2 separate regions of the Homo sapiens genome follow, and region 1 is linked to region 2. Evidence: fine-mapped expression QTL. A gene starts in region 2. The other region holds a variant in brackets. All regions are shown on one strand. Distances are between the middles of the regions.

Region 1 (5,374 bases), 84 kb before region 2:
AAACAGATTACAAAAATTCTCGGCCGGGCGCGGTGGCTCACGCCTGTAATCCCAGCACTTTGGGAGGCCGAGGTGGGCGGATCACGAGGTCAGGAGATCGAGACCATCCCGGCTAAAACGGTGAAACCCCGTCTCTACTAAAAATACAAAAAATTAGCCGGGCGTAGTGGCGGGCGCCTGTAGTCCCAGCTACTTGGGAGGCTGAGGCAGGAGAATGGCGTGAACCCGGGAGGCGGAGCTTGCAGTGAGCCGAGATCCCGCCACTGCACTCCAGCCTGGGCGACAGAGCGAGACTCTGTCTCAAAAAAAAAAAAAAAAAAAAAAAAATTCTCAACAAAGTGCTAGCAAACCAAATCCAACAGCACATCAAAAGATAATACACCATGATGAAGTGTGATTTATACCAGGAATGCATGGATGGTTCAACATATGTAAATAAATAAATGTTATACATCACCAATAGGATGAAGGACAAAAACTCTATGATCACCTCAATATATGCAGAAAAACACTGGATAAAATTAAACATCCCTTTATGAGAAAAACTCAATGAACTAGGCATAGAAGGAATATACCTTAACATAATAAAGGCCATATATGACAAACCCATAGCACACAACATACTGAATGGGAAAAGCTGAAAGCCTTTCCTCTCAGAACTGGTACAAGACAGGGATGCCTACTTTCACCACTACTATTTAACAAAGTACTTGAAATCTTAGCCAGAGCAATCAGATGAGAGAAAGAAATAAAAGGCAACTGTCCGTCTTTGCAGATGACATGACCTTACATTTAGAAAACCCTGAAGACTTCACCAAAAACCTCTTATAACTGATAAACAGATTCAGTAAAGTTGCAGGATATAAAATTCACTTATAAAAATCTGTAGTATTTCTATACACCAATAATGAACTAGCTGAAAAAGAAATTAGGAAGACAATCCCACTTACAATACTTATAATAGCTATCAAAAAATAAAATAAAATACCTTGGAATAAATTTAACTAAGGAGGCAAAAAAAAAAAAAAAAAAAAAAAAAACCTCTGTAAGGAAAACTACAAGACATTGATGAAAGAAATTGAAGAGGACACAAACAAATGGAAAGACATCCCATGCTCATGGATCAGAAGAATTAATGTCATTAAAATGACCACAGTACCCAAAGCAATCTATAGATTCTCCCTCAAAATACCAATGAAATTTTTCACAGAAATGGAAAAAACAATCCTAATAGTCGTTTGCTACTGAAAAAGAGCCTGGGTAGCCAAAGGAATCCTGAGCAAAAAGAACAAAGATGGAGGCGTCACACACTTTAATTTTATTGACATAAATATGATTAGGAAAATATTGAGAATCCCAAATGTGATTGGAGAGGGATTTAATTGGATGGTGGATGCCTATGACAAATCAGGCAAATGGAATTTTTCATTCAAGACTGAAAGGAGATGTAAATTTATTAAATATGGCTCAGGAAATTTGGACATCTAAATGCTCTGTCTTGGGAATAAAAATCAGAAGACTTCCTCTGATCTAGAGTAAAAGAATAGGATGTGGAATGGAGATTCAGTTTTCACTTTGGCTTATGAAATCTATAAGGCTTTATAAAAGTCTTAGATAATATGAAAAGTTTCCATGTTTCATATTGTTTCAGCAATGCTAATTTAGTGCTCATGTGCTCTAAAGTTTTCCATTGCTAAGCCTTTACTGTTCTCTTGGGAACTAAATTGTCTTTTCTAGGGTTTTGCATTTAACTTGCTGTAAGTAATTGACATGTGCCAGGGCAATGATGGACTGGAAGCTACTCAAAGTCTAAGGCTAGTTATTAAATCTGGTTTATGTGTTAAAAAGGTCAAAAGTTAGATATTTCCTTTCACACATCCCCATTCACCAAAAGAGGGCTGGATTCTTTTAGCTACAGGAATATGACCCCAAATAACTTTAAATTAGAGCTTTTTATTTCAACATATGTAAAATATATGTAAAATTGTAAAAGATTTATTTAATTTTCAAAATGTCAAAAATAAAGTAAATTGAACATTGGAAACTCACCTCCCAAAAATTCTGGTATGCTATGTCTATAAATACTTTTTTTCACCTTTATGAATAAAGTTAGCTGTCTTTGGAGCACTCTATATCAGCTGATGCTTTAAATAGTCAGATCCTGCCACTAAGTCTAGAATTGGCTCAATTCTGGAAAGTTTTTTACAGCTGCCTCCGAGGGCAAAAGCCTTTAGAAATATGCACCCATTGAAGTCTCTGATTCCCATGACCACGCACTGGTGTTCCAGGGCCCAGCAAGCATAGTACCTTTGATAACAAAAGCAAATATTTGCCATCCTTAGAAAGCAATACAAAACAACCAGCTCCAACACATCCCAAGCTTCTGTATGGGTGAATGAACACTCCTTCTTGGTTCATATTTGCTTGTGGAACATCTGTTTTGACTGTTCATTGTATGTGTGTAATTATGCTCTGTTCATAGTAACTTTTTCATATTATGGACTTTATTTGCATTGAAAACACACTGCAAATAAAAAGAAATGCCAAAAGAGAAACCAGAGAAGAAAAAGAGATGGGGGAGCAGCGAAAGGAAGAGTAGCTCCGGGCCTTTAAGGAGCAGAAGCCAAGTGATCCTGGGGCCAGAGCCAGGGCCCCA[A/G]GGCTACTGAGACCTCAGCGGTCACTGCGACAATGGCTGAGAAGGGGCAGCATCCTCATCTGCAGCTTGGACAGAGGACTTGGCATTCCAGGAGCATCTACTGAGGTTCAAACTTCCACTTGTGCCCCTCCTGCTCTGATGTGGGAAGCCATGTACCCTAGCGAGGCTTGCTGCACCACAGTGAGGACGCTGTCCTGTTACTGTGCTTCAGATGGGGGCTCACCCTCCAAGTTCCTCCAGAGGCTGGCACCCCTCCCAAGGTCAGTGCACGTGCCAACACACTCCAATGCCCTCAAATGTTCCTGACCCCCTGATACACAACCAAAGAGGTGGCGGGGAACCCAGACTTGTTGCTAGTACAGGTGAGTGGATGGAGGGCTTGATCATTCACACTCGAGGGGAGGACTGCACCCTAAACAGTGAGAGTAGGCTGTGAGAGATGGCCCCATTACAGCAGTGTAGGGGCAGGGGCACCCACCCATGCTGGGGGGTGCAGGGTCAGCCTGCCTCGGCACTCTGCTCTGAGATCAGGCTTGGCCAACTCAGACTCCTTGGAGGTAAGCACAGGCCCAATATAAGGATAAAAAACCTCCCAGCTGTGTTGATAACTCTGCAAGTTACCTAGCCACATTAAGTCTCAGTCTCCCCACCTCTGAAATGGAGACAGTAATAGGACCTACTGCATAGGGCTGCTGAGGTGATGAAACGTGATGATATAAAGAACTTCCTTGTTCTGGTGCCTGATATATAGTCTACATGCATTAAAATGACACTGGACCAGGCTCTAGCTACCTTTTGTGTGTGTGTGGCAAGGTTGCACTGTTGCCCAGGCTGGGGTGCAGTGACATGATCACAGCACACTGCAGCCTCAGCCTCCTGGGCTCAAGCAGTCCTCCCACCTCAGCCTCCCAAAGTGTTTGGCATTACAGGCGTGAGCCACCACACTTAGGACTCTTGCTACTTTCAGCTGAGCAATTTGTGTGTTTAAGGAGCCAGGTGCTTGGGAAGAGATGCCACCAGAAGGAGGGAAGCCCTGGGAAAACCAAGAGAGTTTGGATTGAGGAAATTGACTGAGGATCCCAAAGGGGCACAGATTTGGCCTGACATGCCCAGAGGTTCTTGGGAACCATTTCGAGCAGGTGCACAGCAGCCACTGAACCCGCCCCACACCGTCTGCTCTCTGGCAGCCCAGACAAAGAAGAACTCTAGACCTCAGAATCCTGCAGGAGCGATGATACATGTCTTGACAAACAGGGTAAATTCAGGGCAACTGTGAGGGCCCTTGTTACATTCTTGAGCTACAGGAGAGGCCGCTGCTTGGGTTTCGGTTGTTCTTGGCCTCCTCACTAACCTGGGGCACTATTTCCTCCTCCTCTCCTGTCCCCCATGCCTCCCCCACCCTCTTTAAAAAAAATGTTTAAAGGCTTTTGTGAGTGAATGATCTTAATCATGAAGCAGGCATGATGACAGTTTGCAGAGCTAAATGGGCACTTAACTGTGTGTCTAATAAATCCGCAACAAAAATAAACAGAAAGGAAGAGGGTTTGGGAAAGAAAGGAGGCCAGGCCGGCAGGCATGAAAGGAGCCTGTCATGGTGATTTACACAGCACCCCTCGGCAGGCGGTTTCCGCCCCGGCCCCTCCTGGCCGTGGCTGACCTGCAGATGCCAGAGGCTGACAGCACAGAGCAGCAGGTGGAGGCCAGTGCCAGAGCACACCTGGATGGAGTGCAAGCAGAGTGGAAAAGGAGGCAGGAAGGCTGCCCCATCCACTGTCCATGGGTAAGGCAAAGGCAAAGTGCAAGGCAGGGAAACCAGGCTGGTGGCAGCCACTTTCCTCAGGATCGGTGCCCAGATTACAGACAGTATTATCTGGATCTGCCTGCTTGTCCCAAACCATTCTCCACCCAGGATTTGGTTAACAACCTGGGATTAGAGGCATACTCAGGTGAATTTAGCAAACACCTCTTATTCCAGTGTTAATCACCCTTCCAGGGGCACAAGAGGCCTACCTAAGGCATGAACCCTCTCTTAGTGTCTTAGCCTGGTGAGGATGTGCTTAGGAATGCATCTTCCATGAATCACCTTTCTTGCCCAGAAAGAACGCCATCGTGCAGCGTAAGGGGAGGTGTAAATATTATAAAACCTTGGCTGGAATCCCTGGCCCCACCCCCAAATTCACTAGATTATAAGTTTCTCCAACAAGATTTTAGTGTATTTGAGGGAAGGAACAGGTTACTTTGCCCCCTTCTCCCCCTCCCACCCACCTTCCTCCCATAGTATTAGCACAGGGCTAGGCACAAAATAAATGTTGAAGAAATACTTGTTGGCATGGATGGTGGCTGACGAGCTTCTGGTGGTAGGAGGTCCCAGGCACTGCTTTCTAAGGGCAGGGCTGCACCGGCTCTGGTCCTGGTTGGCCTTGAGGCCCTCTCTCAAGTCGTTGCCATCTCTTCCAGTTTACCCCTCTGCAAAATGGAAAGGATGTCTCTGGCTGCTGCTTATTCTGAGATTTTGGCTCCAATCCTGAAAGCTGAGTTCCTGGAGAAGCCTCCAAGACAGAAGTCAGCTGGAGACCACGAGAATCCAGATCCTCTAAGTCCTGTCTTTGGGCTTTGGAGACTTCAGCACAGCAAAAGGAACTCAGAACATATAAACTGAAAAAAACGCCTCGAGGAATTTACACTCTAGTCGGGGAAAAAAACTAATCCATGTCCCCT
Region 2 (5,374 bases):
GAATGTCGAACAATAAATTCCTGTCAGGTGATTATCTGCCTGAGATGAAAACTATTCCCATTTCTCAGTTTGCTTGAATACATGCTATTCTGCCTGATATTTGGTACCATAAATTGACCTTTAGGTTACTAAATCCACAGAGCATGAACTGTTTCATTATGCAGTGTTTTTTTTTTTTTTAATGCTGTAGTTTTCTTTCCATCCCAATTTTATGCACTTATTGTACATGCTGGTAACTTTTTAATTTTGAGGCCTTTTTTTTCTCTTAGTTTTCATTATTTTACCTGACACAGTTCACTTCTGTTACACGTCTTTAAATCTTAAATCAGCAAATGAAAGGCTGAGAAAGTTCAGTAACTTTAATTCCAATGTATGCCTTTCACTTGAACTTTTTATGCATTGCTTCCACCACCAGTGCTCAACATTTAGTTCCATCTAGCAAAAAAAAAAAAAAAAAAAAGAAAAAGAAAAGAAAAGAAGAAAATTACAGTGTCCTTTGGGATGCCAGCAACTTATTGTTGTTGTTTTTAATTAATAAGAAAAAAGATTACATTCATCTAATCAAAGATTTTTGTCCTGACCTTAACTGTTAAAAACAAAAATGCTTTGAAAGTATGGTATTTGCAAAACCCCTGAGAAGACACTAATGGGATTCCCATGATCTAATACATGTAAGGCTTTAACTGTAACTGTAAACCCACTGAAGGCTTATGATCTGAAAGTATGAACTATTGTAGCCAGTTTTTATGGGTTTAATTCCACCAGCAAATCCCAGTTTCTATATTTTAATTCTCAACTAGAGCAAAATAACGACACATTTTCAACTAACAATCCGAAAGAAGAAAGTACTGGAATAACGGAGCCAGAAAACCATTGCCAACAGCCACCCTCTACCACGAACCATCAGTGAACTTCGAAAAGCACAAGACTGAGCAACACTTAAGTCTGTGAAATACGTGCATTTCACTTATAACACTCACAAAACTACATATGAATCATTTTTTTTTCCTCTGATTTATTTCCCACACAAGGTTCAATAAAACACGACACTTACTCAGCCACCTCTGACTGAATGACTATTCTCTGCAGCTATTTATTACTCCTCTTCTGCCACGTTTTCTTCTATGATCCAATTCTGTGACTCCTATAAGCCAGGAAAAGCTGCCTTCAAGTCAACACAGCACAAAGTCACTGAAAATTCTGCCGGCACTAGGCTCTACCTAGGTGCTTAGAAGTTGTTCTGTTTTGTCCTGGGAATGTCCCATACGCAATGTTAATGACTGAAACAGATCCTCTCTTTTTCCTCGAAGGGAATTGAGTTATTATAACAAAGGATGATTTGTGCTCAAAACAATATTCAACTTATCACCCCTATTCAGTATGTATGTGTCCAAGGGTCCACAACCACCTATACACAAATGTAAAAATATCAGTTCTCAGGAGATCTATCTTGTTTCTAAAATTTCTTATTTGTTCCTTGTTTCATATATTTCTTGGTTTTAAAAATTCAGTATTACAAGGCTTGTTATGGGACATCAGGCCTAATTCTACCTTACAGACAAATTAACTTTAAAAAGGCATAACTGAATACAGTATACATTTTACAACCAAATACATGTAGGAACAATTTGGTTTTAAAAGAACTTCACTGTATGTATTTATCATATGTTTACTGATTGTCATATAGGGACTATCAATGGAACCAAGAGAAAATACAGGATTCCACGCATTGAGCATTAACAACTCAAATGTTCCAAAAAATATCTTCCAAAACTGTTGGCCCTTCATTTTTTCATTTTAAGTGTAATTTAATTTATCTCATGCCTCTCATGCAACTAACAATCTCAAAGGTTCTTTTGGTTTGGAAATACTTTATGCTTACCTTTAATGGAAAGCACACTCAATAACTTTTTTCTGATAAAAAGTGCTCCTACTTCTTTTTCGTTTTATTATACCCATGTTCCATAACCTAAATCCTAACAATGCCGAGATACTTTGAAACTTGGATCTTCTCTTAATGCATTCAAAATTTTAAAAGTACCTTGGATTTATTTTCGATAGAAACTCTACTACGTTTTCAATATATGTATTAAGTTCTCTTTATCTTTACTATTGCTCTTACCTCCCGTGAAGAGAGAAAACCAGGTGTGAGTAATGTTTTCATTGTTACCATTGCTGGTTTTGGTCACTTAAGACAAACGAGGGTGACCTTTTCGGCTTGACTTAAGACAAACGAGGGTGACCTTTTCGGCTTGTGCCACAAAGACAATGTACTTCAGAACTACTTTCTCAGAGGGCGATCATTGTAAGCAAAGCTCAGTGAATTCGAGATTTTGTTGAGAACCTCAGGATACTGATTTACTTGCAAAATTCACAGTGGAGACAGTAGGAGGCTGGACAAGTTAACTCAAGGTGAGATGCAAGGCCGCCAAGCTCAAGTTTGAAATTCACACACACCACCACTTCCTGAAACAACGATTTAGACGCTGAACCTGCTCAAGTGTTTGAACTTTCAGCAGGAAACGAGGAAGCGTTCTCCTCCGAGCAGGACAATCAGGCGTTGCGCGAGCAGCCCACTCCTAAGGCCCTGCCGCCTTTATTTCCACTCGTGCCATCCACACCTTGCGTGGTCCTTCCCGGCCACGTCGCAGATGCCTTTGCAATGCCCACCGCTTGCTGAGGCGCAGGAAAAGAATCCCTTAACTTAACCCTTCCTCTCGCCCTCGGATCGCAAAGCACAGGCCACCTACACGGACGTGAAAGCTACCGAACCCCACTTATCCCCTAGCGGAGCGTCTTACCCGTACAGGAATGCAGGGGCTTGGGTCGCACGACCAGCGACGGGCACACGGAGTAGAGGGAAAGTTTCTCAAAGTAATCGCAGGTCTCCTTGGAGAGGATCTCGTCGATCATGAAAGTCTTGTAGCGCCGCCTGGCTGCTTTGAGCTGGCCGGGCGAGCTCAGCCTCAGCTCGGCGTGGCAGTGCATGGTGAGCCGGCGCGAGCGTCCGCCGGCCCGAGCGCGGCTGCGAGTGCCCGGCCCGCTGGGGCCGCGGGGCTGGCGCGACGGCGGGGCCTGGGCCCCGCTCCCGGCAGCTGGGGAGGCGGCGGGGCTCGGGTGGCGCGCGGAGGAGAGCGGGTAGCGGGCGCGCCTGCCGCGCGTCTAGACCCACCCGCAGATCAGCATCTTCGCTGAGCCTTTTTGGGACAACGCAGCTGTCAATCAGCGCGAGCTTCCTGCAGGGCCGGGTGCGGAGTGTGTGCTGAGGGGCGTCCGCGCCCACCCCGCCCCCGCCCGCCCGTGCCACTCCGGCGCCGACCTGCGCGCCTAGTGCCCGGCGGCTCTCAGTCGCTGCCTCCCGCTCTGGTGTCTCGCGCTCCTCTGCCTGGCTCTCTATTTTAAGACGCTCGTTTTGGCTCTCCTCCCCCTCCCCCCCGGGACGCGCTCCAGGTGTGTGTGCAGGAGTGTGCGCGCGGTGCGGGGAGCGCGCACCGCCCCAGCCCGCGGCCAAGGCCCAGGCCGGTAGCTCCCCGGGGCAGTGTTCCCCATGAGCACCTTACTGCCTGTCCTGCCACCCGCCGGCCCGGCTCCCAGTGTCCGCAGCCCAGCGGGAGGGCACGTTCAGGTCTCTTACTAGAAAGAAGTCTAGTCCTCACTAGGCTCCCGGGACTTCGGGCCACAGAGCCAGTGCCCCCGAGGACCCACCGTGCCTTTCTCCTTCCCCGCGTGGACGGTTTCCCGAAGACCGCGGCTTCCCAAGCCCTCCACTCGCAGTCTCGCAGCCCGCGCTGAGCCTGCGCGCTCCGAGCGTAAGACTTTTGAGCTGAAGTTGCAAACTTGACTGCCCCAAGATCCCAAATCATAAATGACCCTGGCCCCGTCCGTTACCCTCATAAAAAACTGAGAAAAAAAAAAAGATAAGAAAAGAAAAACTAATAAAAGTGTGAGTTATCGCCGGGCGCGGTGGCTCAAGCCTGTAATCCCAACATTTGGGAGGCCGACGTGAGACGATAGCTTGAGGTCAGAGGTTCGAGACCAGCCTGGTCAATATAGGGAGACCCTGTCTTTACAAAAGAAAAATTAAAAACAGGCATGGTGGTGCACGCCTGTAGTCCCAGCTACTGGAGAGGTTGAGGCAAGAGGAAACCTGTAGTCCCAGCTATTGGAGAGGTTTAGGCAGGAGGAAATCTTGAGCCCAGGAGTTCGCGGCTGCAGTGAGCCGGGATCTCGTCACTGCACTCCAGCCTGGGCGACAAGAGCGAGATTCTGACTTTTTAAAAAAGTGTGCGGTTTTTTTTAAAACATTGTTTATAAAAACATTTTTTCCTCGTTGGAAAGGGTCAGAGCTGCACGATTCTAGGGAGCCGGCGGGCACTGGGGCAGCCTGTCCCATGCGGGCTTCTCCCAGCGCCCGAGTCTTCCGGCAAAGGGGCTTTCAATATCCGGATCCCTCGCGATACGACCGGGTTAGAGAGTCGCGAAGACAGGCGTTTATTGGGTGATTTGCCTTTTTCTTTCCAGGCTCTTAGTCTTAGGGTCTGTTCCAATCAAAATCTGTACGGACTTTAGTTGTTCATTGGAATTGCTGCGTAAAGGGGACCCCGCCGAGCCTCCGCGCCCGGGAAGCCTCCGGCAGCCTGAGTCGCGCCCGGTGTTCGGCGGGAACAGCCCAGTGCACGCCCGTTTCCACGACTTTATGTTGGAATGAGTGTGCATGGGGTTGGAAGGAAAACGCACGACAGGGACACTGAGAAGTATAGACGCGGATGGCCTTCCCTAGGGCCGAGTTTGGGGCCGGTGACATTTCCTCCCCGCTCCCAGCCTAGAAGCGTCCGCGAGTGCCGGCGGGCTCTCTGCGGAGCTGCTTGCCCAGGGGGCCCTGGTGGCCGCGGAAGCAAGTAAATGAGGGCGCCTGGGCCGGTGATTAAACTAGGAGGGAGGGACACGCCCAGAGGACTAATCATTAGGCTGTTAGAGAAAATAGATTTTTTCTTTTTTTTTTGAGACCGAGCCTCACTCTGTCGCCCAGGCTGGAGTGCAGTGGCGTGATCTCGCCTCATTGCAACCTCTGCCCCCCAGGTTCAAGCGATTCTCCTGCCTCAGTCTCCCGAGAAGCTGGGATTACAGGCGCCTGTCACCGCGCCCGGCTAACTTTTGTATTTTTTAGTAGAGACCAGGTTTCACCATCTTGGCCAGGCTGGTCTTGAACTCCTGACCTCGTGATTCACCCGCTTCGCCTCCCAAAGTGCTGGGATTACAGGCGTGAGAAAATAGATGTTAAGAGGCCAAGTCACAGCCTAGCATTAGACAAGGCCCGCAACGCGTCTTTGAGGAACTTCATTCCCGAAGTATTTGCAAACTGGCCTCCCCTCCC

Which allele goes with the higher level. Alleles are on the strand shown, and positions count from the first base shown. SD is a standard deviation of normalised expression in the study named.
In carriers of allele G in region 1, the expression in transverse colon of the gene that starts at base 3,176 in region 2 tends to be lower than with A alone (small effect, 0.20 SD a copy in GTEx).

Evidence for each region. PIP is the estimated chance that this variant, and not a neighbour inherited with it, causes the effect.
Region 1: its variant is the best candidate, but not a certain one, in a credible set for the expression of BARX2 in transverse colon (GTEx, PIP 0.53).

What each region holds. Positions count from the first base shown.
Region 1 is chr11:129,457,852-129,463,225 of GRCh38, reverse strand. No RefSeq gene overlaps it. Among named protein-coding and RNA genes, the nearest start is that of BARX2, 85 kb to the right of the region's middle. The variant A/G (reference allele first, on the strand shown) is at 2,657.
Region 2 is chr11:129,373,650-129,379,023 of GRCh38, reverse strand. It overlaps BARX2 (BARX homeobox 2), which reads right to left and starts at 3,176. Exons shown (of 4, transcript NM_003658.5): 1 at 2,802-3,176. The coding sequence starts at 2,988.